4 separate regions of the Homo sapiens genome follow, and all the other regions are linked to region 2. Evidence: fine-mapped expression QTL. A gene starts in region 2. Each other region holds a variant in brackets. All regions are shown on one strand. Distances are from middle to middle.

The links.
Region 1: its variant is fine-mapped to the expression of STK33 in whole blood (TOPMed, PIP above 0.99).
Region 3: its variant is fine-mapped to the expression of STK33 in thyroid (GTEx, PIP above 0.99).
Region 4: its variant is fine-mapped to the expression of STK33 in tibial nerve (GTEx, PIP above 0.99).

The regions. Positions count from the first base shown.
Region 1 is chr11:8,376,145-8,384,297 of GRCh38, reverse strand. It overlaps a transcript of STK33 not described here. Among named protein-coding and RNA genes, the nearest start is that of LMO1, 120 kb to the right of the region's middle. The variant TG/G (reference allele first, on the strand shown) is at 4,780.
Region 2 is chr11:8,590,695-8,598,847 of GRCh38, reverse strand. It overlaps STK33 (serine/threonine kinase 33), which reads left to right and starts at 4,620. Exons shown (of 16, transcript NM_001352389.2): 1 at 4,620-4,765. RefSeq lists a silencer at 4,798-5,057.
Region 3 is chr11:8,555,843-8,563,995 of GRCh38, reverse strand. The region is part of intron 1 of STK33 (serine/threonine kinase 33); the gene reads left to right. Among named protein-coding and RNA genes, the nearest start is that of STK33, 34 kb to the left of the region's middle. The variant C/T (reference allele first, on the strand shown) is at 3,866.
Region 4 is chr11:8,524,935-8,533,087 of GRCh38, reverse strand. The region is part of intron 1 of STK33 (serine/threonine kinase 33); the gene reads left to right. Among named protein-coding and RNA genes, the nearest start is that of STK33, 65 kb to the left of the region's middle. The variant A/G (reference allele first, on the strand shown) is at 4,752.

The DNA.
Region 1 (8,153 bases), 210 kb after region 2:
GGGCTCACACTCTTGTCTTCTGGTCACTTCTCACAGTGTTCCTTCAGCTCCTGACTCTGCACTGGCTGGTTATTCCTTGGTTATAATAATAAAACAGATTAATACTAAAAACTAATTATTATGATTATCCATATATGATCATCTCTATATCCTATTTCTAGTATAACTTTTCTTATTCTAAATACTTTCTTTATTATATTGGAACAGCTTGTGCCTTCACTCTCTTGCCTCGGCACCTGGGTAACTTTCTGCCCACATCTAGCTGATCGTATGAAGTTTGAGATCTCTATCAGACCTCAAAGTGGAGATGACTACTTGAGATGGATTTAAGGGTTGGAGCAGATCAAGGTGGATAGAGAGAAAAGAGCCCTAAGGTGGAGAAGGATGTGAAGAGAGACCCAGAGTTAATAGCGAAACTGTGTGCAGAGGCTTCTGGGTGCCTGACAGGGCTCACAGAATCCAGGGAGACCTGGTATCAAGGCACCATCTTGGTCCACACAGCAAGTGTGTCTCCCTCACTCAAGGACTAGGCAGTGACTGTATTTTGGCAAGAAGAAGGATGAGAATGGAGTGGAATGACATGAAATGCCATTCGGAGAAATATCCCTGGGAGATGTGGCCAAATCTCCTTATCGCTTGATTAATTGAATCTGAATAGTGACAGTTTACAAGCCCTCAATAGCTAAATCATAATTCCATAGCCTTCCATTAGCAATAAATCAGAAAATGGTGGGCCAGGTATTTTGCTGAAACCCATATTTGCAGAATCCTGGACTGTCTGAACTGTTCCTTCAGCCCAACTCTTCCTCAGTGCAGAAGCTGCACCCACAGCCAGCTCCAGTGAGCTCCCACCTCTGATGACACGTTCCTGGGGTTGGGGGCTCCCTACCTCCCAAGGCAGATGAATTCCACTCTGGAAACACCTAAGTGTGAGAAAATTCTTCCTATCATCTGACACCTGCTGCTCACTGGCCCTTCTGGAGCTCTTTAAAGGCCTCTCCAGCTGCCACATCCAGCCCCTTGGGTTTGAAGGTAATTCCCACAGCCCTGTGTGCCTTCTTCAGGCTAAACATCCCCATGTCTCTTGGACTCTTCCTTAGTGACATGTTTCTAGGCCCTTCATTCTAGTTCATCTGGGTCTTTTTCCAAAATTGAAGTCAGACCTCCAAGTGTGGCCCGTCACCCCCAGTCCTCGGAACACTGTGCGTCTGTCACTGCAGTCCATTGTGTTCCTGTTAACAGGGATTCGTGGACAATCTAGTTTGAGTTTACCAGGACAGGCTTTAATGACAATGTGTCCCTGAAGCATGGTTATTTTCCTATCAGTGTCCTTGTGGTGGACTTTCAGTGACTGCTAAAGAGGCTTTTTGCAGTGTGTTGCCTGTGGGGAGCAACAGAGAGTGTGTTGAGTCAGCGCTCTGGGGTTGGGTCTGAGTCACAGAGCCCTGAGATTATCCAGGAAGACACACTCATTTTCCTTAAGTATCGGTCTTGCTAATTATCCACTGAGATATATGGGGAGGGAAGAAGGCACAAACCGAATTACAGGCCTGCTTGCCAGAGGATGCCTTAGTGGCTTAGCTCCTGCTGGGGTGGCGGTGGGAAACAGGAGAGGTTTGGCAACCTCACACAGGACCTGTCCTGGACCCTCCAAACAGGGTGAGCGCAGGTGTGGTCTGTGTCTGTGTAAGCTGCATGTCCCCACGCCTCCCGCCCACAGGCACTGGGGCACATTAACTTCTTTGCCTAAATGGAATGGCTCTGAGCCCTCTCTCCCCATGCTACTATCAGGAATCTGAGTCTTTTGCAGGGAAGACTCTGAGCGCCCTCCCCTGAACATCTCTGAGAATTCCCAGGAGTGTTCACACATGTCCTTGTCCACTTGTGGCTCTTTGCCTGAGGCAGAGGCTCAGATGCATCATTTCTGATGTCCTTGCCTCTCACTTTCATTTCCAGGGCTTCTGCTCCCCAGCTACCATCAGCGACTGTGCAGCCTCTGGTCAGCCAGGGGCTGTGGCGGCAGCTGCCCAGCAAGATGCCACATGTCCAGTGTGATGAGCGCCAGGCCCAAATCCCAAGTGTCACCCCAATGTAGCGTGACACAGCAGCCGGGCCCTGCGGTCCTCCGATGTTCCTCGCTGCAGGATGTCCCTTCATGTGGACTGACCTCGTGGAGTGGAGTGGATGTGGGTGGCAAGGGTGTGCTGGTACATAAGCCGTAGGATGTGGGGGTGGGGGCGAGGCAGGAGTTGGGAAGAGGTGTGGTGTGGGAGAGGCACGGTGCATACTGTGGTTACAGAGGGATATGGGTGGGAAGGAGGTCTCAGCAGAGATTGCTCTGGCCCTTCCCTTCTGGGTCTCAGAAGCTCCCCAGGTAATCCTGACATGCAACGTGTCTGTTTCCTATCTGGGCCCCAAACTAAAGGGATCTGTAGGCTATTTCCAAATTGCAAGGAACATAATGGAAAAAGCGTATCTGCCTATAGTGAAATGGCTCAGACCACACTCACCTAAAGTTTTTGGGTAATAAAATATTTCAAAACACAGAGCTCACAAAAGAAATAATGACAGGCATCGTTGGAGGTGTAAAGGGTGAGAGGTAGTCCAGCCCCTCACTGTACAGCAAGGCCCAGGGACAGGGTGTTCCAGCTGCTCGGTGCTCACTAGACCAGAAGCCAGGTGGGGTGTCGGCTACAAGTGGGGTGCTGGGTGCTAGGTGATCTCTCATGTTTCTGCATTCAGGATGTTCACTGTGGGATAAACCTTCCGCCTGTGGGATCCTTATTTGGGGATCAGGGCAGGCACAGGCTCTTGTGGCTTAGTCACTCACAGCCCCAGCAGCTGTCCCTGCTTTCATTCTCCGTGGGTCAACAGCAGGAGCCCTAACCCTTAGCCACAATGGAGTGGGGAAGGGGCAGCCAGGAGACTCTCGGCTGACAGATTACTTGGAATACCCCTTACTAATTATGTAGCAGTCCCCACAACTGCCTTTGCAAGTTAGATTTAAAATGAGGTGTGTTTTCTTAATTTTTTTTATTTTAATAGCTTGTGGGGTACAAGTGGTTTTTGGTTACACGGATGAATTGTACAGTGATGAAATCTGAGATTTGAGTGCACCCATCACCCGAGTAGTGTACATTGTACCCAATATGTAGGTTTTTATCCTTCGCCACCCAGCACTCCTTCTGAATCTCCATAGTCCATTATACCACTCTGTGTGCCTTTGCATATCCATATCTTAGCTCCCACCTGTAAGTGAGGACATAGGGTATTTGATTTTCCATTCCTGAGTTCCTTTACTTGGAATAGTGGCCTCCAGCTCCATCCAAATTGCTGCAAAAGACATTATTTCATTCTTTTTGATGGCTGAGTAGTGTGTATATATGTGTGTATAGTAGTGTGTATATGCCACGGTGTATATATACCACATTTTTAAAATGCACTCATTGGTTGATGGGCACTTAGGTTGGTTCCGTATCTTTGCAATTGTGAATTGTCCTGCAATAAACATACATGTGCAGGTGTCTTTTTGATACAATGATTTATTTTCCTTTGGGTAGATACCCAGTATTGAATTGAATGGTAGATCTACTTTTAGTTCTTTGTGAAATCTCCATACTGTTTTCCATAGGGGCCGTACTAATTTACATTCCAACCAGCAGTGTATAATTGTTCCCTTTTCACCACATGCCCACTTTTTTGACTTTTTAATAACAGCCATTTTTTTTTTTTTTTTTGAGAAGGAGTTTCACTCTTGTCAACCAGGCTGGAGTGCAATGGCATGATCTCGGCTCGCTGCAACCTCTGCCTCCCGGTTTCAAGTGATTCTCCTGCCTCAGCCTCCTGAGTAGCTGGGATTACAGGTGCCCATGACCATGCCAAGCTATTTTTTGTATTTTTAGTAGAGACGAGGTTTCACCATGTTGGCCAGGCTGGTCTTGAAGTCCTGAACTCAAGCAATCCACCCATCTCGGCCTCTCAAAGTGCTGGGACTACAGGCATGAACCACTGTGCCTGGCCAATAATGGCCGTTCTTAAGGCTCATATACTGTTGGTGGGAGTATACATTAGTTCAACCATTGTGGAAAACAGTGTGGTGATTCCTCAAAGACCCAAAAACACAAATACCATTCAACCCAGCAATCCCATTACTGGGTATATACCCAAAGGAATATAAATTTTTCTGTCATAAAGACACATGCACGTGTATGTTCATTGCAGGATTATTCACAATAGAAAAGACATGGAATCAACCTAAATGCCCATCGTTGGTAGAATGGATAAAGAAAATGTGGTATATAAACACCATGGAATACTATGGAGCCACAAAAATAAATGAGGTCACGTCCTTTGCAGGAATATGGATGGAGCTGGAGGCCATTATCCTTGGCAAACTAACACAGGAACAGAAAACCAAATACCACATGTCCTCACTTATAAGTGGGAGTTAAATGATGAGGACTTATGGATAGCACAAAGAGGGGAACCACAGACACGGGGGCCTATCAGAGGGTGAAGGGTGGGTGGAGGGAGAGGATCAGAAAAAATAACTAATGGGTACTAGGCTTAATATTGAAGTGACAAAATAATCTGTACAACAAAGCGCCCATGACACAAGTTTACCTATATCACAAACCTGCACATGTAACCCTGAACTTAAAAGTTAATTTTTAAAAAAAGGGCATTCTTCAAGAGTAATGTGGTACCTCATTGTGGTTCTAATTTGCATTTCCCTGTTGATTAGTGATGTTGAGCATTTTTTCATGTTTGTTGGCCATT[TG/G]TATATCTTCCTTTGAGAAATGTCTGTTCATGTCTTTTCCTACTTTTTGATAAGATTATTTGTTTTTTTCTTGCTAATCTGTTTGAGTTATTTGTAGATTCTAGATATTAGTTCTTCGTTTGATGCATAGTTTGCTAATATTTTCTCCCCTTCTGTGGGTTGTCTGTTTACTCTGATGATTATTTCTTCTGCTGTGCAGAAGCCTTTTAGTTTAATTAGGTCCCATTTATTTATTTTTGTTTTTGTTGCATTTACTTTGGGTTCTTAGTTATGAATTATTTGCCTAGGCCAATGTGCAGGAGAGTTTTTCCTAGGTTATCTTCTTGAGTTTTTATGGTTTCAGGTCTTAGATTCAAGTCTTTTGATCCGTCTTGAGTTGATTTTTATATAAGGTGAGAGATAGGGATCCAGTTTCATTGTTCTACATATGGCTAGCCAGTTTTCCCAGCACTATTTATTAGATAGGGTCTCCTTTCCCCAATTTATGTTTTTGTGTGTATTGTTGAAGACCAGTTGGTTTTAAGTATTTAGCTTTATTTCTGTGTTCTCTTTTCTGTTGCATTGGTCTACGTGTCTACTTTTATACTGGTACCACGCTGTTTTGGTAACCATAGCCTTGTAGTATAATTTGAAGTCTGGTAATGTGATGCCTCCAGATTTGTTCTTTTTGCTTAGGATTGCTTTGGGTACTTGGGACTTTTTTGGTTCCATGTGAATTTTAGGATTTTTTTTTTCTAACTCTGTGAAAAAAGATGTTGGTGTTAGGATAGGAATTGCACTGAATCTGTAGCTTACTTTCAGCAGTGATATAGTTTGGCTGTGTCCCCACTCAAACCTCATCTTGAATTATAGTTCCCATAATCCCCACATGTTGTGAGAGGGACCCAGTGGGAGGTAATTGAATCATGAGGGCATTTATTCTCATGCTGTTCTCGTGATGGTGAGTGAGTTCTCATGAGATCTGATGGTTGTTTTTGTTTGTTTGTTTGTCTGTTTTTTGAGATGGAGTTTCACTCTTGTTGCCCAGGCTGGAGTGCAATGGTGCGATCTTGACTCACTGCAACCTCTGCCTCCCAGGTTCAAGCGATTCTCCTGCCTCAGCCTCCCGAGTAGATGGGATTACAGGCATGCACCACCATGCCCAGCTAATTTTGTGTTTTTATTAGAGACGGGGTTTCTCCATGTTGGTCAGGCTGGTCTCAAACTCCCGACTTCAGGTGATCCACCCACCTCGGCCTCCCGAAGTGCTGGGATTACAGGCTTGAAGAGATCTGATGGTTTTTTAAGGGGCTTCCCCCCACTTCGCTCTGAACTTCTCCCTGCTGCTGCCATGTGAAGAAGGATGCATTTGCTTCTCCTTCCATCATGATTGTAAGTTTACTGAGGCCTCCCTAGCCCTGCGGAATGGTGAGTCAATTAAACCTCTTTCCTTTATAAATTACCCAGTCTTGAGTATTTCTTCATAGTAGCCCAAGAATGGACTAATACAGGCAGTATGGTCATTTTCATGATATTGACTCTTCTAGTTCATGAGCTTGGGATGTGTTTCTAGTTGTTTGTGTCACCTATGGTTTCTTTCAGCAGTTTTTGTAGTTCTCTTTGTAGGGATCTTTTACCTCCTTGGTTAAGTATATTCCTAGGTATTTTATTTTTTGCAGCTGTTGTAAAAGGGATTAAGTTCTTGATTTGATTCTCAACTTGGTGGTATAAAGCAGTGCTACTGATTTGTGTACATTGATTTTATTACCTGAGACTTTACTGAATTTATTTATCAAATCTTGGAATCTTTTGGAGGAGTCTTCAGGGTTTTCTAGGTATATGATCATATAATTGGTAAACAGCTGTAGTTTGACCTCCTCTTTTCCAATTTGCTCTTTCTTTCTCTTGCCTGATTGCTCTAGCTAGGACTTCCAGTACTATATTGAATAGAAGTGGTGAAAGTGGGCATCTTTGTCCTGTACCAGTTCTCAGGGGGAATGTTTCACCTTTTCCCCATTCAGTATGATGGAGTGCTGTGGGTCTGTCATACATGGCTTTTATTATTTTGGGGTAAGTCCCTTCAATGGCTAGTTTGTTGAGAGTTTTTATCATAAAGGATGCTGTATTTTGTTGAATACTTTTTCTGCATCTATTGAAATGATCATATGATTTTTATTTTAATTATGTTTATATGATATATCCCATTTTGAAGTGTGTTTTAATTGGCCAGTTTTTAGGGGGGATTTATTTTAGACAAAGGTGAAGATTAAGGGGTCTGCAATGGCCCTGCCTAGGCAATGGATCCAGCAGCATCAACCCCACAACTATAGGGGTATCTACTGGTCACTCTCGATTAATGAGAACATCATCTCTAGCTTCTAGTTTTTGCTTTGGCTGTGTCTTGGTTGAAGGAAAATGGAGGATTGTACAAGGTGCAAAGGGGCACTGTCGAGTTAGTGGTTTTGATAAATGGACCAACATGGGCAGGATATAGGACACTGGGGAGGAGAGAGGTGATACTAGGAAAACAGCTTCAGATTATGCTTCTGAAGCTGGGAGGTTACGAAGGCTTCTACAGTGGAGCCTTTCCTGCCCAGTCAGACTGTTGAGGACTTCAGGTTTCAGACTATACTAGGGATGGTTGGAGCCAAAGTATGGCAGCTGGAAGATGTGATCTCACTTAAAAGAAATGCAGAATCGGCCGGGCATGGTGGCTCATGCCTGTAATCCCAGCACTTTGGGAGGCTGATGTGGGAGGATCACGAGATTAGGAGATCAAGACCATCCTGGCCAACATGGTGAAACCCATCTCTACTAAAAATACAAAAAACTGGCCAGGCATGGTGGCTGGTGCCTGTAGTCCCAGCTACTCAGGAGGCTGAGGCAGGGGAATCACTTGAACCCGGGAGGCAGAAGTTGCAGTGAGCTGAGATCATGCCACTGCACTCCAGCCTGGTGACAGAGTGAGACTCCATCTAAAAAAAAAAAAGAAAAAAGAATCAAAGCCTGCCAGGACAAGACTGTATTGCAAATGCCTCTCCACTTGCAGAGATCAGACCTGATGAAGAAAGTGCACAGGAGAGAAGAGGGGAAGGAGAGCTCGGAGAACCAAATTCTGTCTTAAGCCGTCTGCCTTCTCCTGGCTTTGGCTAATGGTATTAAATACCCTCCACCCAGCCCCACCCAACATGCACATGTGAACACACGTGTGTGCAGCTTCTGTCCCTCACTGCTGCAGGGGACAGATTTGAGCTTGCCCCCGTGACATGCTTAGACACACATAAAGTCATAGTCACTTCTGCCCCCTCCTGCCCAGGACCCAGGTTCCCAAGGATCAACCGAGATCCCTGTTTCCCAGAGCCTTGCCCTGGTGGCTGTCGCTCAGTGATGCTTG
Region 2 (8,153 bases):
CCAATTGACCATAGGTAAGTGGGTTTATTTCTGGAATCTGAATTCTACTTCATTGATCTTTATGTCTATTCTTATACTGGTATGACCCAGTTTTTTTTTTTTCTTGCCCTGTCTTACAGTGCTGAATGATCTAGTCTTGATGACTTTAGCTCTGTAGTAAGTTTTGAAATCAGGAAGTGTGAATCTTCCAACTTTGTTTCTGTTTTTAAGATTGTTTTGCCTGTTCTGGGTCCCTTTCATTTCTTTATACATTTTAAGATCAGATTGTCAATTTCTGCAAAAAAGACCACTGACATTTTGATAAGGATTGTAATGAACTTGTGGATCAGTTTGGGGAGCACTGCTGTCTTAACAATATAAGTCTTCCAATCCATGAATGTTTGGCATGCACTAACTTGAACTCTAATTATTATCTGACAAGAAAGCTAGTCCAGATATCCAAAATTGATGAGACACACCAAGTTAATTGCCAAATGTTTATTTCATTTTTGAGCTGTTATGGATAAGGTATAGTTTTATTTTGTCAAAGTAGGGGAAGAGAACAAATGGAAAGACATATAAATTGGTAGAGCCTATCAGTAATCAGAGAAAGATCTCATTAGGAAAAAGTTACACTTTGTATTATATACTTTTCAAAGATATGTTCCCATTTAAGAAATCTTGCCAGACATGGTGGCTCACGCCTGTAATCCCAGCACTTTGGGAGGCAGAGGTGGGTGGATTGCATGAGATCAGGCATTCAAGACAAGCCTGGGCAACGTGAAGAAACCCTGTCTCTATAGCAAATACAAAAATTAGCCAGGTGTGGTGGTGCATGACTGTGGTCCCAGCTACTCGGGAGGCTGAGGTAGGAGGATTACTTGAGCCCAGGAGGTTGAGGCTGTAGTGAGCTGAGATTGTGCCATTGCACTCTAGCCTGGGTGACAGAGTGAGACCCCTCAAAGAAAAGAAAGAAAAAGAAGAAAGAAAGAGAGAGAGAGAGAGAAAGGAAGGAAGGAAGGAAGGAAGGGGGAAATCTTAATATAACACATAATAAGCTAAGCATCTCTTAATTTGTTTTATGGAATGAAAAAATTATAGGGTTTTTTTTGTTATATAGAGTCTCTTAAAATTTTTTGAATAGCAGAGATAACCTTATTACATGTATAAATCCACTGCTTCTTGACTTAAGAAAACTGAAATCCTCCACTCACCCCACAAATTCTGGTATTTTTACAATAGGGTCAGCAAATCCTGGGACAAACTGTACTAATTGCTTCTGTGTTTTGTTTTATTGACAAATTTCAATTCTGGCTTCTCTTCCTTAAATGTCAAGCAGTTTGATATTGCATTGTAACAATAACGTTACCATAGAGTGTTTAAGTAAATAACATATAGCACTTGTTGCTAGTGGTGACATTAATAATTACAGGGATAGAATGAGAGCAGATTGTTGTATAGTAACGGCCCCTAGAATAGACTGAGTTCCTTGGCAGTGTTAAGAATTTGTCATGTTAGTGGTCATGGTGTTGCAATCCATTATCTCACTGAGAATTGATGACTTCAGCTATGGTTACTAGCCCTAATATTTAATGTAGCTGCCTTGAGCGACTTGAATGCTTAAAAAAAATGGTCTAAGGCATTATGTCAAGAGTTACCCAAGGAAACCTAGGATCTTTCTGTATATATTTTAGGGAATCGAGTATATTTTACTTTCTTGTATAGTTCCTCTGGTTCCTCTCTATAAATATTAGTGACATTTGCACACTGGAAATGAATATTTGTCTATTTGTCAGTCTATCTATCCACCTATTTACCTATCCATCTATATCTTACCATGTTCAACAAAATCTCTTTCCTTCAACCCTCCCCTCCCCTCTCTGCCTCCCTCCCTCCCCTCCTTTCTTCTATTAATTCTTTTATTTATTAACTCCATAATGTTTACTAACTAGCTACTAAGTTCCAGGCACTGTTCCCAGGCACTAGGAACAAGCAATAAACAAAGAGGCCAGGTCCCTGCTGTCTTGGAGCTTAGCTTCTGGTGAGGAAACAGGGAAAATAAAGAGCTTGTTTTAGATGGTGTTAAGTGCTCTGAGACAACAAAGCAGGGTGATGTGATAGACTGTGGGGTGGGGCTATTTTAGGTAGGAAGATCAAGGAAGGCTTCTCTGAGGAGGTGGCAAGTGAGCTGAGATCTGAATGATGAGAAGGAACCAGGCTTTAGGAGATACAGGGGCAGAGCCTTACAGAAAGAGGAAACAGCAAGTGCAAAATATTTGAAGCAGTTTAAAATAATAGTCAGTACAACAAAAAGATAAAAGTAGGAATGAGGGGAAATGAAAGAGAACAGGAGAAAGTTGTGATGCAGATATGCAAACTGTAGTTTGACAAAGTTATTAAAATTGAGTTGCAAATTTGGGTGCTATCTTCCTGAAGTCAAGGTGAAAGGGAAATGTGATCAATCTCATGGTCTGCTTTCTTTATTAAAAAAAGTCATGTCAGTTTCTCTAGGGAAAAAGTGTTCTTTTCTGGCACTCAGGATTGAAATATATTTCTTGCATTGACCCTCCTATACGGGGCATATAGGTGATTATATTAGTGTGGTAGGCCCCTCCTCCCAACTCCAAAGAGTTGGAAATACTATATGGAATTCAAAGGCAGGAATACAATTCATTTCAGAAAATACCATGACTAGGAATGGAAAGCCGTCAGAACTCTTTTGGTCTCTTCTTTCTGTATATCTTTTTCAGCCTTCCTCTTCTTTTCCCATTTTCCCTGCAGCCTGGCTTTCTACATTGCTTTTGGCCACATGGTGGGAAAGTATGTCTGTTGAAGGCTTCTGATTTTCTATTTTAAAGATGTTCTGTGTTTCCACATTAGCTTCCTAGAGAAAGATTGCAATCTCTCTGTCCTAATTCCAAATTCCTGGGAGAGGGATATGATTGCCTTATCTTGAGTCAGGTCCCTACTATTGGAGCAATCAACTGTAGTCAGGTGGCCTGGTTACCTTGTCTGAGGATCCAGGTCTAGTTTCCAGAAAAAGACATCTGGTTATACTGCTGTTTTTGAAATGCAACTTGCATTGAAGGTCAAGAAACCATTAGTGGGTAGAAACTAGCCTTAAAAAGAGATTAAAAGTATCAGGGTGCATAGCATGTGATGTGGGTAATGTTTTATAAAACTTGTTTCATTTACTAAATATATGAGTACCTGTGTATTGAGTGATAATGTAAAACATATTTATTTTGATGGATTGTGCTCAAAAAAGTTTGAAAAGCTCTGCGCTGGACAAGCTGGTAGGATTCTGCTACAAAGATGTAATAAACAACATTCTTAAAGTAATCCCTCTAGTAAATGCAGAGGTATCATGAATTTTTTTAAACAGCATCTCTTAATATAAGCAAATGGCATAGTGCTAAACATGACTTGGTTCATGCAATGTTGCCAACGGTGAAGACAAAATGGTACAAACATACAGTTTTTTGGTGGTCTGGTTTAATCCAGGGCAAAACGCAGTCCAGTGGTTGCTTTTGTTTTTAGAGGCAGGGCTGGCTATGTCGCCCAGGCTGGAACCTGTGAATATGTTACCTTATATGCAAAGGGCACTTTACAGATGTGATTAAGGACCTTAAGATGCGGGAGATTATCCTAGGAGATCTTTTTTAATCTCCTAGAGCCTGGTACCTAGTAGGACGTCATTATATGGTAGGTTTCTTGCAGCCCTTTGGTGGCCAGGTAGTTTTTAATTTTGTAGAGATGGGGGCCTCCCAGTGTTACCCAGGCTGGTCTTGAACTTCTGGGTTCTAGCAATCCTCCTGCCTTGGCCTCCCAAAGTGCTGAGATTATCGGTGTGAGCCACTGCGCCCGGCCTAGTCCAGTGGTTTGAAGTTTGAAGTTACCAGTCACCCATTATGACCATTTTGAGTTTTTTGATGAAAAGGACTGGATGAACTAGTTGCCAAATGTAGCCTCCCCCGAAGCAATACAATGAATCCACCTGCCGTATCAAGTTACTGGCTATCAATCAGCTAATTTTAGAGAACATCTGCCTCAAATAATTAGGCTAGTATTAGGAGAGTTGAATTTCTTCCCCACACTGCTAGAGAGTAGGACCCAGGACCACAGAAGCCATTCTTAGTTCAGGCCAGTAAATACATTAGCATACAGCTGGACCCTCTGTTGCATGGGGCAGGCATTCAGATGGTTCTCATAGGTTTGTAGCTAAAACATATCCCTGAGAATCGTCATTTGATCTGTCAGGAGTCTTCTCAGCCCCTGCGTGGGGACAAACACCCTCCCCCCAGCATTTTCCCGTCTTTTTAGGCCAGCTCCCCACTCACTGCAGTTCAAGGCTTGCAGCCCTTGCTCCAACTGGCTGGGGCTTGATGGGCTTGACTCCGAGTGAGAAGAGTGGCCTGAGCATCAATCACCTCAGTACTGTGATATTCCTGCTACAAAGCTTTATTTTACGTAACACGTGGCTGCTCCTCTGTGCCCCAGACGGGGTTTTAGGTCCTTCTCTAAGGCGAGCTGCCCTTGGGCGCGCCTGGGGCTGCACCTGGGTCACGTGGGCGCCGTTGTGCAGCCGGCACCTCCCGGCCAACCCCGCGGCTTGGAGAAGGGGCTTTGCACCCGCCGCCGCTGTTTGTCCTCGCGCGGCCCCCGTCCACTGCCCTGCGGTTGCTCTGCGGGCTGAAAAGTTTCTCCCGGTGCAGAATTCCGGGCTCAGCGACAGCCTGCGCCGAGTGTGCGCACCTGTCGGAGACCCGCCAGTCCGCCGGCCGCGGTGAGTGGTCCCTGGAGTCACTGGCTCAGGGCGGGCCCGCGGGATGGGGCGGGCGGCCCGGGGCGCAGCCGGCCAGGCCGTTGCTATGGCAACGCGGTGGAAAAACGGGCCTCTGGGTATCTCGCTGCCGGCCGGCTGGTAACCCCCCAGCGGAGGGACCGGGCCGAGCCCGCGGACCCCTCCGAGTGTCTCCTGGGGCCCAGCCGTTGGTACCCCATTTCCCCCGGGTCCGGTATTTGGGGTGGTCTCTGTCTGCCCCGGTTCATCTCCACCGTCTCACCTTCACCCCATCTTGGGACGTGAAACTTTTTGAAAGTTTAGAAGCGAACTTACTGTGGGGTAAGTGTGTGGGAAACATCCTTAGAAGTTCTGAAGTTGTGTTTCTTTTTTTTAAACTGCTAGAGCCTGGTACCTAGTGGGACCCCATTATATGGTAGGTTTCCTGTTGCCCTTAAGATAGTCTCTTGCACCTAGAGGCTGCACATAGGAGGTGAAAGGATGACATAAAGCAGCCCCGTACTGGCTCTGTGGACAGGTAATTTAAGAACTCTCCCTCAGCTTCCTAAATGTAGATTATAATTTCTCACAAGGTCGTGGGTTTCAGTGAACCTATATGTGAAGCTGTTTTGTGAACAGTACATGTGAAAAGCACTTGAGCGTTAGTAAGGGATATTTGCATGCTAAGAGTGGTCTGGTGCTCCCCGTCCCATATCACCAGCTAAGAAGGACCTTCTTTTTTGCCTGACCACCAAATGACTCCAATATCCAACCAGAAAATAGGATAGTCCTGCCTTGAAAGAGGGCTCTGTGAATGGAAAGGAACATCAACAAGTTTTGAACCCAAACTCTTTCCTTGTTCTCCAGGCCCGTGCCTTTAGACAGTGATGGATATGCAGATATATCGCGCATTTAAATTTTTAGCTCGTGTAAATCTCTGTTGCTATCTCAATGGGTCATACCAACCTCTAGTTTGCAAATCAGAAATCTTGGCCTCATCCTTGACACCTCGCACTTTCTTCCTTTCCATATCCAAACAATCATCAAGTTCTATTCATTTTATCTTCAAACCAAATCTCAAATCCATTTGAGTATCTCTGTCTCTGCTACTATTACCCTAGACCAATCTACCATGATCTGTTGTCCAGTAGTAGCCTCTTAACTAATCTAAAGGTATTTATCCTTTCCTTTCAATATTCCCATCCATTCTTTGCCCTGCAGCAGGAGTAGTATTTTCACAACTAAAATTTGATTATGCTACCCCCCAACCTCCTCTAGCTCAAAATCCATCATGGCTTCTCATTATTCTTAGAATAAAGACAAAACTCTTAATGTGGCCAAAAAGTTGGGTGACCATGTACATGACCATCCAGACCAAGATATTTTTGAGAGTTCGAGGCTGCAGTGAACTTGCCACTGCATTCCAGCCTGGGCAATGGAGTGAGACCCTGTCTCAAAAAAAAATAAAAAAACAGTTCCCAAAAATGAAATTATAGGGAGGTCAAAGGGCAGGAACATTGTGAATGCTCTCAAAACATCGAAACATTGCCATACTGTTTTTCAGAAAGATTATGCCAATTTACATTGCCACCGTCAGTTTTATGACACCCATATTAGCATTATTATTTTAAAAACTTTGCTAATTTCACAGATAAAAATGGCACCTCCTTATTTTAACTCACATCTGTCATTATTAATATGTTTTAAGTGAAATCTTATTGTTAGCTATTAGCAAAAGCTTTTTGATGGTTTTTGTATTGGAGTCTTAGTTTTTTCTTACCAGTTGTTTAATTGTTTGATTTTTATCTTCCCCAGCCCAGGCAGGAACCACTATGCTGGGCTTTGGCTGGAATTAGTTGAATAAGTTATCCCTGGAGCCTGGGGCGAGTTGTTACTTCCCTGCAGGCTACAGGGCAAGGCAGAAAACTGTTTCATAGTCTGTTTCCTGGGGCAAAAACTGGAATCAAGACTGGGCTGATTGCTTGTTTTTCTGAACTTTGAGTCAAACAGGGCTTGGAAGAAAGAGAGCATCCAGGTAGGAGGCAAAGACCAAGACAGACAAGGAAAGGCAGAGTAATTTTTTTTTTAATTTTATTATTATTATACTTTAAGTTTTAGGGTACATGTGCACAACATGCAGGTTAGTTCCATATGTATACATGTGCCATGTTGGTGTGCTGCACCCATTAACTCGTCATTTAGCATTAGGTATATCTCCTAATGCTATCCCTCCCCACTCCCCCCCACCCCACAACAGTCCCTGGTGTGTGATGTTTCCCTTCCTGTGTCCATGTGTTCTCATTCTTCAATTCCCACCTATGAGTGAGAATATGCAGTGTTTGGTTTTTTGTCCTTGCGATAGTTTGCGGAGAATGATGGTTTCCAGTTTCATCCATGTCCCTACAAAGGTAATTTTCAAAGCTGGAGGAGAGAAGCTGCAACCTCTTTTTTTGCAGAGACATTGCGGTTTCCTGTATGGAGGATGAGGGAATGCTGGGGGCACTGTCTTGGCCATACAGTGAACCATGTGAACTCTTGTTATAGTGAGAGTATTAACCCTTCGTCATTTGGGGCATCTTCCCCACAATTGCCCTTTCATTTATGATGGCTTATGATTTATAGAAATTAAAACAATTTTATGTTGTCTGCTTGTTAATCTTTTCCTTTATGATCCATTGCTTTTACGCTTAGAAAGTCCTTCCCATGAAGAGACCAGCTACCTATCTGCATTTTCTTTAAAAATGTTATTTTGTAATATTAGCAAATCAAGAGGTAAAGAAAATAAGTACAAGAAAGCTGAGTAGTGTGATGTCCAATAAAAAATCTAAAAGAGGATGATACAAAGGTGGGTACTCGTGTCTTCTTCATGTGTCCTTGAATCAAGGAGCAGAAAAGAGCTTATACTGCTGTAAGGGAGATTTAGGAAGGCTGTCTCTGACAGTTGTTTGAACTGATGGCTGTTTCAACCATTGACTTATCTGTCACACGTTGTAGAAGCTTATCCTTAGAGACTTACAGAAGAAGTATCCTTCTGAAAGAGAAGATGTGTTCTCTGGAGCTATTTTCTACTTTTATTCATCTGATGATACTATGTAGTACTTCAAACACCTATAGTTGTTAAATACTGAGAAATAACTTCCCTGTTTTTAAAAAGAGACTTACAAAATGGAAAATGCAATATAAAATTAATTGCTGACTTTTTTGGCATTGTTAAATTGGTATGCCTTAAGATGCGATTCAGAAAGAATTTCCTTTCCTGCTGAACTCCAGTATATATGAGTGAGGCTAACTGTGTTTTGTTTGGATTTATCTTAGAGCTCTAGAATGTGAAGAATGGGCATCTTATTTTTAAGCTTTAATATATATTTTCTTAGTTTATTAACTAAAATAA
Region 3 (8,153 bases), 35 kb after region 2:
GATATTGCTCCTTGTCTACCTCACCATCTTTGACTGACAGCAATGTAGCTCTTTTTTTTCCCCACAGTTCAGCCATACTGGTCCCTTTTAATTTCCTCAAATCTGCCAGGTTTCTTCCTGGCTCCTCTTTTTGGAATGCATTCCTCACTTTCCCTGGCCAACTGATTGCTGTCCTTCAGGTCACTGCTTGTGTTACTCTTTCTGGGAAATCCCAATATAGTCATACCTCTTGTAATTATTAAGTTAGTGACATTATTTTCCAGGTGTTTTTATTACCAGGAAATTCAGTTCTCACTCTTGAGGACTCTTCCTTCACTTTGTGTATTATGTAAGAACTGGGGGTTCCAAAGGGTTAGTCTCATGTACCATGTGGAGGGTGAACTTGAAATCCGAAAAGTACAATATAGCTGTTGCTGATAAAGACTGTTGCTATTGAAGAATGGTCCTGCACAGCCCAAAGGGACTGATTATTTATGATGACCTGCCCAAGATGTAGAAGTTATATTTTACATTCATATACCTACAGACTTACGTTCATACACTTAGTCATTGTTTCTCAAAGCATAATTTTGTGTCATGGTGGTTATAGGCTGGGTTAGAGTCACCCTTCCTCATGATCCCCTGGGCTGGATTGAGCTTGGGACACCAACCCAGACAGCTCCTGCCTAGTGAGTATTCTTTTGGTGCCATTTGTATCCCTTCTTGCCAGAAGATTTTGGTCAGGGCAATGTTAGGTTTACTCCAACAGCTAACTTTGAATCCCAAGGAACACTCCCAGAAGGCCTATGGGTATCCCAAGAAAAAAGATAGTTATTTCTAGGTTGTATGCCCAAGGAAGGCCCTACTTACCCAGATACAGGGTACTTACTCATTTTTGCAATCTGTCACTATGGGAGGCGACTTAAGTGACTCTTCACAAAATAAAGTGAGCTTCAAGGAGACTTTTGCCTCTCCTTGAACTGAGAAGCAACTCAGAGATTCTTTAGCTAGAATAATCTAATCCATAACACTTGGGGACTCTAATCTCTGCTTAAACAGCTACCCCTTTACTTACTTATTGATCTGCTATTCTTGTGATTTTTAAAAATAGTAATAGTCTGTTTTCCCCACTATAATGTAAGCTCCAAGAGGGTAGGAACTATTTCTGTCTTCTTCATTGCTGTATCTTCAGTGCCTCCCAAAGTGCCTTGCAGATAGTTAATATCCTATGCATATTTGATGAATGAATGAACTTTAAGTTTTCCAAAGTAGAATTGTAATAGTAACTATTACTTCTAAGAATGCAGAAGATATTCAGAAAAGTAAAGCCATACTAACCATATTCCTTATCATGAAACTAATTGAGAATCAACAAATAGAATGAAAAGCAAACAAAAAAAAAATCTGTGAAACTAGGAAATGGCTCAGTTCCTAGCTATGGACTAGAATCTAAGAGTATAATGAAATATGGATGAAATCAAAGGGGATGCTAAATTCTGTTATACACTGTTTAGACTGTAAACAGAGTGCAGATTTCACTGAAAGTGGGGGGCCATGAGTATCCCATCCTGTAAGGTTTTCGTGTTGGGACACGCCATGGGAAAACCTGGAAAATCCCCAAGGAAGCCAGTGCAATATCTCAAAATGGAGACAGAGAGAAAGAAAGAGAGAGAGAGAGGAGAGAGAGACAAGAGGACAGTATCTTTTGATTTCTAACCTGCAGTGAAGTGGAGAGGAAGAAAGAAGAAATGACAATGAGCTATGTAGCAGTTAACTGAATCAAATGAACATAAATGAATAACTAATAAATTAGCAAACCAAAGCTAGTTAACTGCTTTACTCTAAGCATGCAGAATGAAGTACATTTCAGATTAAGAATTATTTTAGTAAACAAATTCTTGAAAAATACATCTGTATTCACTTAAAGAAATTGAAGGGGAACATAGAATTTTTAGAAATTGGAGTTAAGGAAAGCAAGGCAATCCCTCTCTGGTGGTCAGTCATAGGATGTGAGGCTTTATAGCTGTTGGCAGCCATGTTCTGTGCCTTGTGGGAGAAATTGGTCTGTCTATGATACTGACAGCCAAGCCAACACATTGAAGCAGAAATAAGAGACAAAAGAAAAATAGCCCTAGTTGAGATAAGCAGTCCTGGTGGCGTTCAAGTCTGTGGTTCCAGTTATCCCTCAGGCTCAGTTACACTTTATACATTTCCTAAAGTTATATGAGGTACTGCATTGTCTTTCTGATAAATTCTTTTTATCTAAACTATTTCAAGTTAGGCTTATGCCATAGGCTTTCAACTAGGAATTCTGTATGATATGTAGATAATACAGGCAGAGAAGATCCAACATATGTGTTATTGGTGTGCCTGATAGAGAGTAGAACGAATGGACAATAATTTCAAATATATCATGGGGAAAAGACCACCAGAGATTAAACGGATTAGTAATCTGCAGATTCAAAGAACACAGAATTCTAAAAGAACTGAAACAGGATGATCAATATCAAATAAGTATGTAACAGTAAAGTTACTTGTGCTTCAAGATTAAAAAAAAGAATCGCCAAGCATCCAGACAGGAAAAGCAAGTCACCGAAAGGGGGAAAATGAGACTGGCTTCTGACATCATGGTAATAGCCAAAGCCAGGAGGCAGTTGAACAGTGTCTGAGTTTTGGTGGAATGTGTGTAGGCAGGGAATAGTGTGACCCACAGATTTAATACCTGGTCAAGCTCTTATTTATGCATAAAGATAACAACCAATATTCTCAAACATTCAAGGACCTAGTCCCTGAAGAAATGCCTCATGAGTAAAATTAATCATCTAAGTGATAAATAAAAAGAACTTGGGAATGAAGAAGCAGAGATAGGAAGGGGTTGATAGGGCATATGGAATCTATTTAAAAATAGACCAAGTAAAGTCTGAATAACTGCGTTGTATGAAAACAGAAGAAAATGTAAAGGCTCTAAAATTAATGTTGAATAAAGGATTTATGTAACAGATATAAAGAGGGGAAGGGAGAATAGGTAGAGGTTTGTAAAAGAGTTTGAACTCCCATTTATCTTCGTGGAGAGAGAGTCAGTAGATAACAGCCTGTAGTTGATGAATCTGCTAGTCTCAGTTGAAATCTAGGCACTGCCACATAGCAGCTATGCATTCTCAGATGAGTTTAATTCTCATAAGTAGCTGTAGAATCTTCATCTGTGTCTTGGAGGTAATGATACTACTAACCTACTAGGGTTGTTGTGAAGATTAAATACAATAATGTGTGTCAGGTACTTAGAACAGTGCCTGGCCTGAAGTAAGCATTCAGTAAAAATTACCAATTGTTTATTATTATTTTAAGGCAAAAACATGGGCAGATAATTTTATAATCTTGGGGCAGAGAAGGCCTTTCTAAGCATAACTCTCAACCTAGTGACCACAAAAGAAAAGATTAATTATTTGATTTCATAAAAACTAAAAGCTTTTACATGACAAAATCACCATGATAAGAATCAATGAACAAATACCCAAGTGGGGGAGAATAATTGCAATATGTTTGACAGAAGGAGGATTGATATCATTAATATTTAGGGATCACTGATAAGTCAACAAGAAAAAGATGAGAAAAAATCAGTATGAACAGATATTTTACAGAAAAAAAATTTGAAAAAATACTTAGCCTCATTTATAATTAAGGAGGTAGAAATTAAAATAAGATGCTATTTTTCATTTATCAAATTGAGAAAGATGAAAAAGTTCAAAAATATCTAATGACAGAATGTGGTAAAATGCACTCTCATATCCTTTCTTGAGGGCAGTCTGACATTTATCAAAATAATAAATGCTCACACATTTATCTCTGCAGTGCTACTGCTAAGAGTGTATTCTACAAATATATTCAT[C/T]TTAGTATACAAAGATATATGTAAAAGGTTATTGCATATAGCATCATTTGTAATAGAAACCATTTGGAAGCAATTTACTTGACTATTGATATGGACTTGTTAAATAATTTAGAATGCTTATATATATTGGAATATTATATAGCCATTAAAACAAAAGAGGTGTAAATATATATATGGATAATGAAAAAATGGTTAGGCTATAATATTTAGAAAAAGGGTAAGTTACTGAGAATAGGTATAGTATGAGCTTATTTACAACCATATGTGATTTATACTTAGGCTGTGTATATGCAAAGAAAATTTCTAGAATGTTACACAGAACCATTGGAAATGATTATCTGTGAGATGGAGAATGGAGATGCTCTGGACTCTTATTTTCATTTTATACCCTCTGGACTCTTTCAGTTTTTATTACAGCAATTATTTTCTGATTTTATAGTAATTAAAAGCAAACAAAAATATTTTAACCGGTAGTGACTATGTTGCTTTTGAAAATAGAATTTAATATTCTGGGAATAAAATTATGGGGTAGAATAGTAAAACAAATCAAGTAGGTTCAACTAATGTTTGTTCAACAAAGATTTAGGAAGCTCCTACTTTGCATGACGTACTAAACTGAGCTTAGCTTGTGGAACAGATAATACTTGATAAATGCTAAAAATAGCGGTTCAGACATTTCTCCTAGAGGTTATATTTTCTTAATTAAAACCAGATGAAATGAAGTCTGTTAGTGAACACTGTTTTTATTACATGATTGTCATGCCACCAACCTAGAAACTAGCATGAGGGGCAGGAAAAAATGCTAAGGTTTGTGAACTTGGCTATGCCATTTTGTTGGCTTTGTGCTTTGGTTGTCATAATATGGCTGCTGAAGGTGTTGGGGATATGTGAGAAGGTATATTAGTGATAATGCTCATGATGACAGGAGAAGATCCTGTATTCCTGAGCAAAAACTAGATTTGATCAAATGCTGTATTTACCAGTGCTATTTATGTTTTGTTGCTTTAGAGGCAGCAATTTTATGAAGGAGGTTGTAGTTTCATGGAGGCAAGTGGACCTCTACATTTTCTAGGGTTTGGCCATGTGAATTATACCAATCTATTTAGAAATTGTGGCTGTTTTCTATTAGAGAGTCTGTGATTCTTCAAAATCTTGTGATTTCATTGGGCTCAAGACATTTTGAGGAATGGGAAATGAGTGCAGTATCCAGTTGGCATTAGCTTTTTGAATTTGAATACCCGCACAGCCAGTTGTGCTATATTAACACTTGTTTTGAAAACGTGAATTTGCTGCAATGCCATTGATATATTAGGAAGCGATTTGAGCATAAGTGAATTTCATGTTTGTGTTATCCATGATTTTTGTCAGCAAGAAACACCAGGTGAACACAGAATACAGCACATAGTTGAACCGAGCCCAGCAGGAACACACAAAACGGACACATGTACATACCTGGAATATCTACCAGCTACCTCAGTTCACCACAAGTTATGAGCCACACCCACCCGCATCTGGTGTCACACCTTTCCTTCTGATTTCAGATAACCTTCTTTCTGGCACCCTTGATTAATTCAAAAACTACAGTCTTTCAAATGCCTATATCTATAAGTAAACTTCAGGTTTTTTTCAAGGTAAGGTGCCATATATTTATGTTTCCTAACCATTTAACATATACAAAAATGCTATGATTTTTTATTAGGTTTCGTGTGTGTGTGTGTGTGTGTGTGTGTGTATCACTGACAAAGATTTGGAGTTTTGTGTCCCTAGCTACATTTCCCCCGTAAGTCCTTGTTTGTGCCATTTTTGCATAGTGTAGTGATTTTTAGGAATGTAGGTATTTCCTTATAGTGAAACTGACTATATCTCTTTGAACAAATTTATGCTGGTCTTTTTTCCTTTTCATTTTAAGTTTATGTAGTGCATCTGATTTGCAATAGTTAAACAGCTCCCTGCAAACAAATGAATGATGGAAATCTTATTTTTCCTTTTTTTGCAGGTAATCCATTGTACCAAGTTAGCTCAACATTTCTGATTTTAAACCAACTTCTCTAGTTCCTTGTTGGCAGTTGGTTAGGGCTTCATGTGTCCTAGTGAATTGAGTGATTTTTCTAAGTTAAATTTTTGTGAAGGGCTGCATCTTGAGATAAGGTCCCAAATGCCTCATGTTGAACTCCTTTGGACTTCTCTAGACTTCTGTGACTTAAGGTTCATTACATTGCTAATCGTCCATGTTTATTATTATATGAAGAAAGCCTTGCACCAAGTTTGTGGCATGAAGTAAGTACATAGGTATAAACAGCATGTGATTGAAAACCAAGTATTTATTATTTGGAAGTGAATTACTTTTTTTTTTTCAAAGCTTAGTTATCTTTTTTGAGGGTTTTTTTCTACTCCAGTGATGATATAGGTTGAAGTAAAAATCTTTCATTGAATGCTGAAGTTCCTTTTTGAGGTTCTAACATGATATACATGAATAAAGGAGTTACAAGTCTATAATTGCCTTCTTTACATCTGACTTATAATGCTTTCTTGTGTCCAGGTTCCGTTCCTTATTCTAGTTCACTTAGTAGTTGCACTAGGAATTATTTCTGTAAAAATATGAGAGATAGGAATGTATATTTTGACTTGAGTATTTGCTTTAAGGTTTTCCTTGTGTAAGTACAGGTTTTTATTCTGATTTTGGCACGTAAGAATTCAGCTTTAAGTTGAAATTTAAGACTTCCTGACTTCCTTTTTCCCCTCCTTTTTTCCTTCCTTCCTTCCTTCCTTCCATCCTTCTTTCCTCCCTCCCTCCTTGCCTCCCTCTTTCTTTTCTCCTCCTCCTCCCTCTCCTCTTCTCTCCTCCCCTCCCCTCCCCTCCCCTCCCCTCCCCTTCCCTTCCCCACAAGGTCCCCCTCTGTTGCCTACGGTGGAGTGCAGTGGCACAATCAAGGCTCACTGCCGCCTTGACCTCCCAGGCTCCAGTGATCCTCCTACCTCAGCCTCCCAAGTAGCTGGGACCACAGGCATGCACCATGATGGCCAGCTAATTTGTTTATTTTTTATAGAGATGAGGTCTCACTATGTTGCCCAGGCTGGTCTTGAACCCCTGGGCTCAAGTGATCCTCCTGCTTTGGCCTCCCAAAGTGTTGGGATTACAGGCATGAGACACCATGCCTGGTTTAAGGTTTCTTTTAATTTTCTCTTTGAAAGAAAGTATCTTAGTCAATAGCAAGTGCATCTAGCAAAGAGGGGCATTACTATGGTGACCCTAAAATCTGTTCTTCTCTTCTTCATTCATTCATTCTTCATAGAACAAATATTTGTTAGGTGCCTAATATGTGTTACATCATTTTAGGCTCTGGAGAATATAATGATGAGCAAAAATACAGTCTTTCCCCTCACAGTCTAGTGGGGGAAATAGACTTTAATTAATTAGTGACCAAAATATATACTTATAAACTGTGATAAGTGCTATGAAGAAAGTGTACAAGTTCCTTTGAAAGAGAAAAACAAGGGGACCCAATTTGGATAAGTGATTTAAAAAAAGCCTTTCTGAAGAAGTGACATTTAAACTGAAGTCTACAGGATAAGGAGTTTACTGGAAGGGAAAGGGGGTGGAAGGATTTCCAGGCAGAGGCAAGAGGTTTTGTGATATCATTTTATAGTACTTATGACCTTTTTAGATGCTTATATAATTAGGTACTAGTCTATGAGCAAGACAGTTTATAGAGCTGTGTTACTGAAAAGATGCATATAAATTACATTTTTATAAATGAATTCCTGAATTCCTGCAGGCTTACATTATACTCACTGTGCTATATCATCTGCATTTGATTGATGTTCAGTTACTTCAATTACTGCTAGATTGATCTTTCTAAAGCACAACTTTGATGACGCTTTTTTCTGCTCAGAAATCTTTACCAGCTCCCCAATTACCCGATAAAATCCAGACTTCTTAGCCTTATGGTCAGGCCCTCCCCAACTGGCCCTAGTCTCAATATTCTACTTCAACTTTACTCCTATTTCTGAGGTACTCTCTTGGCCAACAGAACTTCTGGATGATCGTGGGTGCTTTCTTATGTGCCCACCTTCACTTACATTGCTTCTCTTGCCTTACAATCTGTTCACCTCCTTCTTAGACTGCCCAAATCCAGGCCCATTTCAGATGTTAACATTTGATCTTGGTGTCTTCTCTGATCACCCTAGCTGGAAGTTACTTCTTTTTCTTCTGACTTCTTATGGCATTTTTATTTTTACTGTTTTTTAGGTACTTTTCCCTTCTTGTTTTTAAAAAACTTATTATTTT
Region 4 (8,153 bases), 66 kb after region 2:
TATAGCATTTGAAACATTATTCATATTCTTTCAAGAGCAGACATCAATCTCAGAAGTCTTGTGTACAAACATGACAGAATTGGTCTGTATTATACTCTGATAAAAATCACAAAATGGTTTTATTTTTCTACTTTTTTATGAGTGTGAAACATTTGCATATTATTGCAATAACTTCCATAGCCTTTGGAGCAAAATCTGATATATTGTTTATGGTGCAGTTAAAAATGGGTGCATTACATTCATATTTTGTTGCAGTTATCCAACAGATTTTGAAAATAATCTTAAACCTTATATATTTTATAATCAGGGTTAGCAAACACACAGCATGCATGCTGCAAGTTACCCTTTCAATGTGTGTAGAAGACATCTCTAATCAATTGCAACGTTGTTTCCTGCTGAGCTTGGGCAGTCTCACATCCTCTTCAACATAGTGATTTGGTTGTTGCTTAGTGCAGATAGCCTGTGCCATGAAAACTATTTGTCATATTAGTTTTGCACCTTAACCAATGGAGCGAATATGTCAGCAGAATATCCAAAAAGTCTGCTTAAGTTTGGAAAAGGGAAAATATAATGAGGTATAATTGAGGTAGAATAAGGTAGTGGTTTAGACAGGGCACGGTAAACTTTTTGGGCAAAGGGCCAGATGGCAAGTATTTTAGGTTCTGTGGGCCATATGGTCTCTGTCATACCTACTCAACCCTGCCATTGTAGTGCAAAAGCAAAGATAGATAATAAGTGAATGAATAAACCTGTATGTATTCCAATAAAACTTTATTTATAAAAGCAAGCGACAGGCCAGATTTGGCCACTGGGCCATAGTTTGCTAACTCCTGGTTTAAATCAGTGCTACTCAAAGTGAATTGTGTGAATAAGTGATGGTAACATCACATGTGTGCATGTTACAAATGTAGATCCCTGTTCTGTACTCCGAACTTACAGAATCAGTCTGGGATGGGGCCCAGGAATGTGTGTTTATTAGCTGGTGAGGTTATTTTGAGGCTCACTAAAATTGGAAAGTCCCTGGTTTAAATAATATTACACTTCTCTTCTTTAAAAGTTTCATATACCCCAGCTGTGAAACTGCCTGATGCATTTATTTTAATGGCTGATCTTTAATCACTTTTCTTATCTCTTCTGTGGCATTTGATCTATCCAAGTTTTTTACTTCTTGGGTCATAATTGGGAATTTACATTTTGCTAGAAAATTATTTCCTCTAGGCTTCATATTTGTTGCTGTGGCGGTTTTAAAACATTTCTGCAAAATTTTTGACATTCCTATCAAGATGTGAGTTTATGCCTACTTTCCTTGGGTCTAGGCAGGCTTATGACTGCTTCAACCACTGGAAGATGGCAGAAGTGATGCTGACTTCCAAGGCTGGTTCAGAAAAGGCTATGCAGCTTTTTCCCGGTTCTGTGGGAGGCTCACTCTGGGGAACTCAACTGCCATGTAAGAAGTCTGGGTCTTCCATGCTGGAGAGCCCATATGTGAGCATCCCCATTGATAGGCCAAGCTAAGCTCCCAGCTCAGCTCCTGCCATCCGCCAGCATCTGTTGACAGCTGGTTGGCATCTTGGATAAACAGTGTAATTTGAGCTTTCACAGAGCTCCAACCCAGCTGTCATCTCAACGTAATCACATGACAAACCCAGCCTAGCTGAGCCCTGTCTGAATTCTTGACCTAAAGCATCTGTGAGCATAATAAAATAATTGTTTTAAACCACTAAGTTTTAGGGTAGTTTGTTATGCAGCATTTGTAAATAGCACGCAAAATTGCAAGTACTATTGTCTTATAATTGCCTTAGTATCTTTCTTACCTGTATTTATGAATTTTTTATACTCCTAATCATTTATATATTTTTCTCTCAGTTTCCTTTAAGCGAAGTTGGGGGGTATTTATTTTATTAATCATTTCAAAGATCAATTTTTAGATTTCTTCATTTTACAATTTGAGATGTTTAAGTTTTATTAATTGAAGCTTTACCTTTATTCATTTTTTTCTTCCTACTTTCTATGTATTTAATTGTTCCTATCCTAGTTGCTAAAAGTGAGCACTAATTTTCTTTTTCATCTTTCTTGCCTCATAAAAAATGCTTTTGAGGCTGGGTGTGGTGGCTCGCGCCTGTAATCCTAACACTTTGGGAGACTGAGGTGGGCGGATCATCTGAGGTCAGGAGCTCAAGACGAGCCTGGCCAACATGGCAAAACCCTGTCTCTACTAAAAATAGAAAAATTAGCTGGGCTTGGTGGCAGGCGCCTGTGGTCCCAGCAACTCAGAGAGGCTGAGGCACGAGAATTGCTTGAACCTGGGCGGCAGAGGTTGCAGTGAGCCGAGATTGCACCACTGCCCTCCAGCCTGGGCGACAGAGCAAGAGTCTGTCTCAAAAAATAAAATAAAATAAAAGAGAAATGCTTTTGAAGCTTGAAGCTATAAGGTTTCCTTTAAGTTTGGCTTTCACGGCATCCTATTAAGTTTGCTATGAAACATTTTCCTCTTCCTTGTCTTCTGTTTGTAATTTCAGTTTTTATATTCTTTTTATCACAGCATTTTGAAAGTGTTTCTAAATTTCCAAATAATTTTTTCTTTTTTATTCTTGGTGGTGGTGGTGGTAGATTTTTTTCCCCCTATTTTTCCAACATGTGTAATAAATACACATTTCTCCACTGGTACAAGAAAATAAAATTTCAACTATTTCCCCCACCAGGACCCTCTCTTCTTCCCTTACCAGTAAATTTCCTTTTATTTTAGAGTGCTTTTACTTCCTGTTTCCCCACCAGAGACATTTAAATGCTCTTTTGTCCGCTATCTCCCCATGTCTGACCTTAATGCTTAATACCTCCTTCCTTAATACCTAAGTGTAAAAAAAACCAGTGTGGTAATTTTTGCCTCAGACTATTATTAGGTTTTTATTACTTATTTTGCACTGATACTACACATTCTTATTCGATTTCAGGACACTGTGTGATGCTCTCCACATTCTCATCTTTGTAGATGCAAAGCCTCTCTTCCATCCTAAGGAGCAGGCAGGACTTCATACACCTTTTCCGCCCCCTCTCGCACCAGCTCATCTGGGCCAGGAAGACCAGCATGTTCATTTAAAAACATCCAGCTCTGTCTGTTTTTTGGGGGAATATACTAGTTTTCTCTTGCTCACGTAACTAATTACCACAAACTTAGTGGCTTAAAACAATATGAATGTATTATCTTATTGTTTTGGAGGTCAGAAGTCTGAAATCAGTTTCACTGGGCCAAAATGAAGGTGTCAGCATGCCTGTGTTCTTCCTCGGGGCTTTTGAAGAAAATGCATTGCCTTGCCTTTCTCAGCTTCTAGAAGCCACCTGCGATCCATGGCTTATGGTCCCTTTTTTTCATCTTTAACGAGTCTTTCTCATACTGTATCACTCTGAGACTCCTATTATAACATCTCCTACTATTACCTTTGCCCTTTTTTTCCCTCCTTATAGGGATCCTTGTGATTACTTAGGGCCCACCAGATAATCACATCAACAACAGCTTTTTGCCATGTAAGGAAACATATTCCCAGGGTCAGAGGGTGAGCTTTTTGGATATCTTAGGGGGAGGGAGGCATTATTATGTCTACCAGAGGGGCCCATAAATCTCTCAAGACCAGGCTTTTCCTAGGAACCTTGAATTCTGAATCTTGTCCTATGGCTCTTTGCCACTAGACCTCAGTATATCTTTTGACTTAGCAGAGAAAAATTTGTCTTACACTAGCTTTCTCTGTGACCCCATAAGAGCAGAGGTTCTACTCACACTCTCTAGGCCCTACCTGCCTCTGGCCCAGGAAGTAAAAGAGTTAGTTTGGAGTTAGGAGAAGCATCAGCAATTATGTTTTCAGGCTGCCATGTTCCTAGAATCTTTGTCTCTACACTGTAAATATTATTGATGAATAGATGGCCTCTTATACTAAATAGTTTTAGACTGTAGCAGAGAAAACAGTTTAATGGTTAAGAACAAGACGGAATCAGACTGTTGGGATTCAAACCCTAGTTTCGCTGTTTACTACGTATGTGACCTTGGGCAAGCCATATAGCCATACTGACTTAGTTTCCTCATCTGAAAAATGGATAATGATGCTATTATAAAAAACAGGGATAATGATAACACTAGTAATACTCACATAGTGGTATTGTAAAGATTAAATGATATTGTAATTTATAGCAAGTGTTCAGTACACTACCTGGCACATGTTATTTCCTTAAATAAACTAAAATAGGCTCATATGCAAACATTTTGGTTTGTCTTCCATGCGCCTTTTTTGGACTCACCTACTGGCACTGTATACTCCAGCCATACCACAGAATTCACCGTAAAAGCTTTGAGGTGAAAAGCGTGTGCACATGATACAAAGGGATATGGCCACAGAAGGCCAAGAGGTCTTTTTCATAACTGTCGTGAATTGACTAATGTTCCAGGTTTTGGTCTTTAGTCTTAAAGGAATATAAATATTATCTTGTCTTTATCTCAGAATATTTGGGTTCAAGATTACTGATAGATATCATTGACCTAAGGGAAGAAACTGAGGCAAAATTAATATATTTGGGCCATGGTTGAAAACTGAAGCTCAGGAGCTATAGATTGAAGTTGCCCTGAGTATATGCTTGGATTAGCAGCAGTTACCAGTGGGAAAACAAGAAGTTAGGGAGCAGTTCCTAAATTGTTTACCAATCATTTACATTGGTTCATTAAAATAACATAAGTTGTTTGGCTATACATTGTTTTTTGTATCACA[A/G]GTTCCAGGAATATGAGGATAATGGTGAAGGACAATTGTACAACTTACGGTAACTTTTTAGATACTTTATCAGCTAGTCTGGAAACTATAGGAAAGGAAAGAAAAAACAAAATGCCTTTAAACAATTACTTGCAGGCATGGGTACAGGGAACCTGAGGGAAGTCTCATGCTCCTGACTCTCTGGGCTTGATACCTTTTGCATAACTCGCATTCCTCAGACTGCTCTGAGCCACTTTTCTTTCTCAATACTAACAAAGCTCGTGAGAAATCCATGTATAACACTACCCAATGCATATTATACTTACATGGACCTGACTAGTAGATTCTCTCCCTGTAGGTAAACATCATGAAAAAACACATTACAACTAGAAGGTTGTGTATGGAATATGAAATAAGAATGGGGATAATTTATATAATTCAAATATTTAATTAGATAATCTATAGTTGCCTTTTGCATCTATTTCTATGATAGCACCATAGGGATTACCTTGTCAGAGGAAATGTAGTAGTGGAAGTGTTTTGGTAAATGGGCTGTTTCCTCTGGAAAATACTCATATAGTCATTGCTATTGTGGTTGCTTCTGTGATTTTACTGTTTCTTCTCTATGCCTCATGTCTATGGAAACTTCTTCTTAGATATAATAATTTTTCTGGTTATCTTGCTCTGGTCTAAGAGCCACCATCTGTTTACTATGTATTGTTTTGTATAAATAAACCCTCAGAAAAGCACAGTATTTTGTTTAATTCCAAGTTCTTGCCATGGGAACAGCTTACTTGTGAACTGTGCCTACTTATGTCTTCCACCCCAACCCTCTTTTCTTCCTGGGGAAATACCTTGGGATACTGTTAAAAAAAAAAACAAAAACTCACTTCTTGTGAAACATAACAGCAAACAGAGAAATGTACAAAGCAAAAATGTACAGGTTGGTGATTTATCACAAAGCGAACACTCATGTAACCCATCACTCAGATCAATAATAGAACATTGTCAACATGCCAGAAGCCCTGCCTCAGGGCCCAGCCAGTTTGTATAGCTTTCTTTCCCTCTATCTTTTAGAATTTGGCTGGGCACAATTGCTCATGCCTGTAAGCCCAGCACTTTGGGAGGTCAAGGTGGGCGGATCATTTGAGGTCAGGACTTCTAGACCAGCCTGGCCAAGATGGTGAAAACCCGTCCGTTCCTATGAAAAATACTATATATATATATATGTTAGCTGGGCATTGTGGCGGGCACCTGTAATCCCAGGCTGAGGCAGGAGAATTGCATGAACCCCGGAGGCGGAGTTTGCAGTGAGCCGAGATTATGTCATTGCACGCCAGCCTGGGCAACAAGAGTGAGACTCAATCTCAAAAAAAAAAAAAAAAAGAGGAAATCTCTGTCTTTACTTTTACAATAATTACCTGTTTTCTTTTTTCCATCTAGGTATGTGTCTCTAGTTTTACCTTTTTTTTTTAACATATAAACAGAATCTTACAGTATCTATATTTTTGTCTGGGTTTTTTTTTTTTGCTCAGTATCATTTGTAATATTCATCAATGATGTCACATATAACTAGTTATTTTCTTTTTGTGTGTGTGTGTGTTTTTAGTGTATATATCTTACACATCTTGCATTAGATTTATACCTAGGTATTTGATAATTTTGATAACTAGTTGTTTTCAAACATGCAGAATAATAAGCCATTGAATGAATATACCATCGTATTCATCCAGCTGTTGATGGCCATTTGGGTTGTCTCCAGGTTTTTATTGCTATGAATTATCCTGCTCTGAACATTCAGGTACATGTATTTTGGAGCACATCTGCAGACTTTTAAGTTGGGAACATACTTAAGAGAGAAATTTTTGAGTTATAAGATATGCGTATATTTAACTTTAATAGATAATAGATAATGCTAAATAGTCTTCCAAAGCAGTTGTACCAAATAACTTTCTTTTTTTTTTTTGAGATCGAGTTTCCCTCTGTTGCCCAGGCTGGAGTACAGTGGTGCGATCTCGGCTCATTGCAACCTCTGCCTCCTGGGTTCAAGCGATTCTCCTGCCTCAGCCTCCCGAGTAGCTGGGATTACAGGCTTGACACCATGACCAGCTAATTTTTGTATTTTTAGAGACGGGGTTTTACCACGTTGGCCAGAATGGTCTCAATCTCTTGACTTCATGAACTTCCTCCCTCGGCCTCCCAAAGTACTGGGATTACAGGCGTGAGCCACCATGCCTGGCCTAAATAACTTTCTTAAGTAGTAGTGTATGCGAGTTCTCTTTTTTCTGCTTCTTTGCCAACATTTGCTTTTGCTAGCCTTTATAACTTTAGTTGTGTGAGTGGGTGTGTAGTGGTATCCTATGGTGATTTTAACATGCTTTTCCCTGACTGCTAATGAGATTAGCACTTTTTATTATGTTTATTGGCATTTGGGTATCCTCTTTTGTGAAGGCCCCCTTGCAGTTTTTTATTTCTTCCAGTTTTCTGTTATGTTGCCTATCTTTTGAAATTAATTTGTAGGAAGTTTTTATACATTCTAAATATAAGCTCTTTATCACGTGTTGCAAATGTCATTTCCCATTTTGGCTTTTCCTTTCACTCTCTTAATGGTATCTTTGATGAACAGAAATTCTTAAGGCTTTATCGTCTTTGCATTTTATTTAAGAAATCTTTTTGTACCCCAGGGTCATAAAGCATCTTCTAGTGTTTTCTTTTGGAAGCTTTATTGTTTTGCCTTTCAGGTTTACATTTATAATCCGCCTGAAATTAATATTAATGTATGGTGTAGAATAGAATTCGGGTTTCCTTTCATATGAATATGTAATTTTCTCACCACCATTTATTCAAGAGGCTATAATTTTTTCACTGCTTTGCAATGTCATCTTTGTTTTAAATCAAGTGACTATATACATGAGTCTGTTTCTGTGTCACTGTTCTATATATTTCATCTGTTTGGCTGTTCTTAAACCAATACTATATGTGCTAATACAGCTAAGTAAGTGCTGATAGCTGATTGAGAAAGTCCTCCCACTTTTTCTTCTTTAAGATTGTCTTTGGCTATCCTTGACAGTTTGCATTACCATATACATTTTGTAATTAGCTTGTTCAACACATATGCATATACACACCTATTGGAGTTTTGATTGGGATCTTATAGAATCCCTAGATCAGCTTAGGGGGAGCTTCATTTAAAAAATACTGAATCTTTCAATCTATGAACATAGTATGTCCTTCCATTTGTTTACATATTCTTTTATATTATTCAAAACGCTTTACAGTTTTCTGCTTAAAGTTCTATCTTTTTGTTAGATTTATTCTTTCACATTAAAAAACCAGTTTTTTTAGGTATAGTTGACATACAAACAGCTGTACATATTTAATATGTACAACTTAATAAATTTGGAGATAAGTGTACAGCTGTGA